Regions from separate parts of the Homo sapiens genome. Here region 1 is linked to region 2. A link means that fine-mapping ties the variant in region 2 to the expression of a gene that starts in the linked region. Tissue or cell type: atrial appendage. Region 2 holds a variant in brackets; the other region holds the start of a gene. All regions are shown on one strand. Distances are from middle to middle.

Region 1 (2,937 bases), 42 kb before region 2:
TACTAGATTTGACAATTGGCTCTTTTGTGAAAGCAAATGAGTATGACTTGGAGTTAACCTTACAGGAGGCCATCATATTATACTCTAGTTAACAATGGCTTTCTGCATACGTGCTACAAGTCCATCAAATCGATGGCCATCTGTGTGTACTAGAGACACAGAGTATCAACACACTGAACCTGAAACTTGTTATTCAGGGCCCACCCACTCTATAGCTACCAAAGTATATTTTTTAAAGTAAAGGCCACATCACAAAGTGGGAAAGCTGTTAATACTATCTAGCATTAATTCTGTATTAGAAGGATACAGTTGACCTAGATTCAAATTCTAAATGGTTAATGCTTCCAGATACGCACAAAGGAAGTAAATATTCTAATAAACTAAAACATCCACAGTAAAAATATCAGTATACTCACAAAAGACAAAAAATACTGTTCATTGTGAGGCAGAATTAGCTACTTTAACTCAACTGCCAACTATAACCTCCAGCAACAACCACTCATAAAACAAATCATCAATATTTGCACACAGAAAAACAAAAAGTCAATTCTGATGCCATTTTTCTGTATTTTTTCAGGTTGGAGGAAGTAGAAGAAGTGGTTGAGGACTAAAAATTCTTTTAAATAACAAACCAGAGTTATAATTCAAAAGCTTGTGTCTTTGTAAAGATTACATTGTCATCTAAACAAAATTACAATACCAGACAGTAATCAGGAAGAATGAAAGGACAGGCAGTTGTGTTCACTCTTCCAGCAAATAATCACTTGCAATCATTACTACTCTATTCTTTCAACAAGCATGACAGAAAGTAGCATCATGACAGAGATCATTGTACTGAAAGAACATCTTAACTTTCTCTGTGGTTCACTGCTGCCTTAAATTTGAAAAAAATAAGAGAAGGGCGGGGGAAGAACTTACTTGCGGTTTAAAGTTTCATCTTTAGTCCATGTAAGATTATGCAGCAAGTTTTCTTGCCAAGGCTGCCTCTTGCACATCCCTTTAAAAAGAACCAGTGCTCATAATCTAGTTCCAAGACGATTCATTCACATGTTCCACCTCTTGTTTCTGTGAGGCATTGATATCCACTCTCATATCATCAAGAAAATGTTACTAGGAAAATTTTTAGAAAAGCAAAACAGTTCAACATGTTAACTCAGAAAGCATACCATCATTCTCCACGTTCTGAGATGTATGCCACCTGCCTTAGTTACCACAAGCAACTAACACTAAGCTGCTAGCAGGAATCTGTCTGCCCTCTATCTGTCGCTATTAGCTCAGCACGTTGATTTCACTGGCACTGAAGCAACAGCAATTAGCTATCTTGCTTCTCGCAGCACATACAGGAGACAGCTGAGTGCGCTAAACCACGCACTGACTGGTGAGCGCTTTGCACCAATTAGTAGCAGGTGCTACAGCCCAAAAGACAAATTGATGTCCACTGATCATCGGTACTGGCTGCTTTATTGTACTGTGTTCGTCAGCCTGTCTGATGATTCTCTGTTCTGTTTTGTGTGTTTGTTTTTACTGTTTTACTTTATCTAAGAAGTTTAGCAGCTTACATTCAATAACAATGTCGTTGACAAGATAAAATAATCTCTTAAGCTTCTTTTATCATTCTCTCTGTCTCTCCCTCTCTCTCTCATTAAATCTACCCTCTTATATGAAGCCCTCCACATCTTTGGGGCATAAAAACAAAACAAAACAAAACAAAAAAACAATTTCACAACTTCACACATTCTGTAGGAGCCAAAAGTACTCTTTAGATTTTTACAAACACGTGTGACTGGTAGTATATAAGGTTATCACGAAGAAATATACTATACAAAACATTATAGCATATTTCTTAAACATTGTAATATATGAAATCTCCAAAACAAAGTTTTACAGATGGACAGGTAAACTAGTAAAATACAATTATGTCATATAAATCAGAGAAACATTTCTTAAGGAATCTATCTTGCATAGTACATATTTCAATTCCATATTAAATTTCACCCATGTGTTCACCTGAGCATATGAGAAGGAAGGATCTAGAAACAAGCAATTTAGGAACATATTTTAGTAGTGATTGTGACAGAGCAGATAGGCTGAGGCTGGTTGAAAATGACAGGTGAAGACTATCACAGACAAAAGCCCCAGAACACATGTTTTCTTAATGAACCATGTGGATTATTTACTAGGATGATACATTAACTCTAAGAAGAAAAAGAAAACCATGCCTCCAGAAATGTTGCCGTATTTATGCACAAGCATTTGCAGAAAATAACATCTCATTTAAAACAAAATGGACTTATCTTGCAGGCTCAGTTTTCCAGAGGGAGGGAAAAATCTTTAAGAATATGGAAATAATCTGAGGCAAGCCAAATGTGTTATACATTTTAAACATTAACACGTGTAGAAGTAAATCAGATAATTATAGATGAACCCCTTGAGCCTCAAGTGGAACCCATTTGTTTTTATTTTATGTACCACTGAAACAAACTAAATTACTTGCTTCCTTAAAACCACAGATCAGTGGGAGTCAATGAGGACTTGTAATAAGTGAATACATTATACACTTGTTAGAACTGATATTTTTAGATTTTAAAATTGATGTGTTAATAAAGATAACTTTATTGATACATGTTTAAATAATGAGCATATTTTGTGTGAGAAGTTTTTCTGTTCATTTCACTAAATGTCTCACCTGTGGAGCAATCCATATATTGATATTTGTTGAATAGAGCAGCTGGTATTTTAAGATTGTTTCAGTAACCATAAGAATTATTAAGTGTAGTTATTTTTCTAATGACAATTCAGCCTCATTCGTGGTAATGTTCAATGATAACTCTGATGACACATCAGAAATATAGCTAGAAAACAGAAAATTTTATCCCTTCCTCATCTTCTCAGAGCAATTCAATTATTACTAATTGAACACTTGTCAATGACAACAGC
Region 2 (2,937 bases):
CTGTATTGCTTAAGTTCATTTCAATAAGCACATATGCTATTTTCCAGGGGGAAGAGGGTCAAATTAAGAGAATAAATCACATCATAGGAAATAAAGATCTTTAGTTATATCGAGGAACTTGAAATTGGACTTATTCTCTTATGTAACTACAAAATTCATAAACGTTCATGATAATTTCAAATCTGTCAAGCTACTGAAAAGAGAAAGGAAAAGTGTGTGTATGTGTGCGTGTGTGTGTGTGTGTGTGTGAGACAGAGAGAGAGAGAATATGAATAAATGAGACAGATTTAATTGGTAGAGTCTTCGTAATTTTATTTTTTCTCCATCCAGACCTATTGTTAAAATTATTAACTATTAGCACCCTTTCTTCTACAACATATCTTTTGTTAATGTCTCCCTCAAATCATTTCCTCTGATTCTAGTAACTCACACTTAGTAATTTGTGACCTGCCCGTCTGCATCCATTTCTTAGAGCAATGAATCTTTGCTACTCCATCAAGGTTCAAAACTCAGGAGGAAACCTTGTCATTAAATTCTATAAGGAAATCATCTAAGGTTCTAATTTTAAAATATGTTTTGAAATTCTACTAAGATATTCTGTAGATGTGTGAGGTAAGCATAGATTAGGAATAATGTAAATTGCTACAACTATATATAAAGTCAAAGAATCTTAATGTATTTGTGGACTTTGTAGTTAGTCTGCTTACATCCTTGCTCCAATTTATGTAACTACAACAGCGATTATCTTATTTATTTTGTATACAGTCAGTAAAATTCAACTTTATTTTGTATGGTATTACCTCATATAAAAAAATCTCTAGGACACAGACTGAAGCATCTTTTGGATAATGAAAGTCTTATGTTTTCTAGTACAGGTGTTTAATAGCAAGCAGCTTTCATATGGAAATTCCAGGGTAAATAGGTTTGCTGTTGCCAAAGGAAAAGGAAGGCAGGCATTATTGGGAGGAAAATAAAAAGAAATAAGTGTCATCGTATGTTAATGTAATGAAAACTGACTATCGGAAAGAACAAAGATATCAGAGCTGAAATATAGTCCATCTCCAGCTTATACGATCCTTTAAGGGTCAAGGAGCTCTGACACACATTTCAAATAGTTTTCAAAATGTAATACTGAGAGCATACCCTCAGCAGTATCTCAGCAGTATCCAGAAAGCCCTTAAAAGTCAATCTTAATAAAGCATTCTTTTCATTGTTGTTGTATCGTTTGGCTTCATGAACTTTAG[G/A]GAGAACTGAACAAGTAAAGCTGTGCCCTGGCAGTTGAAAAATTGGCATGGAAAATAATTGGCATCCTGCTCAAGGGAGAGGGATTTGAGCCAAACAAAGGTACCTCCTATATTAATATGTAAGCTTAACAATCAGGCAAATCTAATGCCGCCAGACTTCTGGGTCAGAATATTAACATTTCCTTCTGACATGCTCGAGCTGGAGTTTAATGCCAAGAAATGCATTTATAATTAGAAAACATCTTAATTGTGATTTATGTGTGTCTGACAGGCTGACACTTGATCTTTACTTACTCTCTTACTGACTTAACGTTATTTTTATGTCCTGAGAGACATAACTCAAATTGAAGATTTTGCTTGTCGACTTTATATTCTGATAGTTATTTAGCTTTTCTACACACACATCATACATTTGCTCAATTCTTATATTTTAACATTTTATAACATAGAGTGAATTTCATTAAGATGATTTCATTAAGATAATTTGACGATTGTTAACATGACAAAACTAGTCAAAAGAGTTTGCTTCAATAAACGTAGTAAATAAAGTTAAAAAGTAGTAAAAGTGCTAGACAAGCAATTGAAATTTCTGAACAGTTCCCTGATACATCTTACGGGGATCAGTGTTTTGAGTCCCCAGTTGGAAAATACATGACAAATGGCAATGAACAATTGGACAAATGGCAATTGGAAAATACATGACAAATGGCAATGAACACAAAAATACGATTTAACATGTCTTGTGACTGTTTATCAAAATAGGAAAATAGTTTTAGCATAGAATCTCATTTCAAAATATAACACAGAGCATGGCTGAAATAACTTTTCTTATATATTTCAGTGTTATCCTACTGAGTTAAGAAAGGCATGATTTAAAAGAGGTAAAAGTATGTCCACATCATTCAACCACAGGATGAAGGCTAATTATATCTACACAGCCAGTTCCATTTGGCAAATACAAATAGATAAGAGGTGCTAGTGATGATTCAGATGCCTTGGAAAGCTACAGTAATACTTTCACAAATCTTATTTTTTATGAAATATAAATGTGTGTGTTAGTGAGGGGAGAGACAGAGACAGAGAAAAAGAACAAACTATTTGTTAAAATCAAGATACAGTACATTTTGAGGAGATGCTAGAACTCAAGAACAACTTACCTTGTTAACTGGAGCCCTGCTATTTATATAATATCACTCTCCCTACTTTTTAAACAGAAATTTAGGCATATGCCTTCATAGTGCTGACACATATATGCTTTCCCTCACTCTTGCTTTGATGGATTCACATATATGCTTTCCCTCACTCCTGCTTTGATGGGATGGATTCACATATATGCTTTCCCTCACTCCTGCTTTGGTGGATTTATGATGGATTTTCTTCACTCGTGATTTGGTGCATCCTGAGTAAAGGCAAGTTTTCTTTTGCTTTTTTTTTGAATATTAATAATTTTTCAGAAATATGTATCCACATGCAGCAGTCACTGAAAACACTGTTAACACTAAGAAGTTCAGAAATAAAATTCAATCTCACTGCCTCAATGTTAACTATTAAAATAATAAAGTTTATGAACTTTGGGAGAACTTTTCAATAAATTTCCACTATGAATTTGATGACGGCCATTATGCATGCACTTGATGTTTTTTCAGAAATTTTGTTTCAATAATGACTTTTAAAAAAACGTAGCCTTAATTTA

Alleles and levels. Alleles are on the strand shown, and positions count from the first base shown. SD is a standard deviation of normalised expression in the study named.
For the expression in atrial appendage of the gene that starts at base 1,225 in region 1, G is the low allele of the variant in region 2 and A is the other (moderate effect, 0.45 SD a copy in GTEx).

What was found. PIP is the estimated chance that this variant, and not a neighbour inherited with it, causes the effect.
Region 1: it holds the start of PCDH15, and the variant in region 2 is the best candidate, but not a certain one, in a credible set for the expression of PCDH15 in atrial appendage (GTEx, PIP 0.60).

What each region holds. Positions count from the first base shown.
Region 1 is chr10:54,800,007-54,802,943 of GRCh38, forward strand. It overlaps PCDH15 (protocadherin related 15), which reads right to left and starts at 1,225. Exons shown (of 38, transcript NM_001384140.1): 1 at 919-1,225.
Region 2 is chr10:54,841,956-54,844,892 of GRCh38, forward strand. It overlaps a transcript of PCDH15 not described here. Among named protein-coding and RNA genes, the nearest start is that of PCDH15, 42 kb to the left of the region's middle. The variant G/A (reference allele first, on the strand shown) is at 1,245.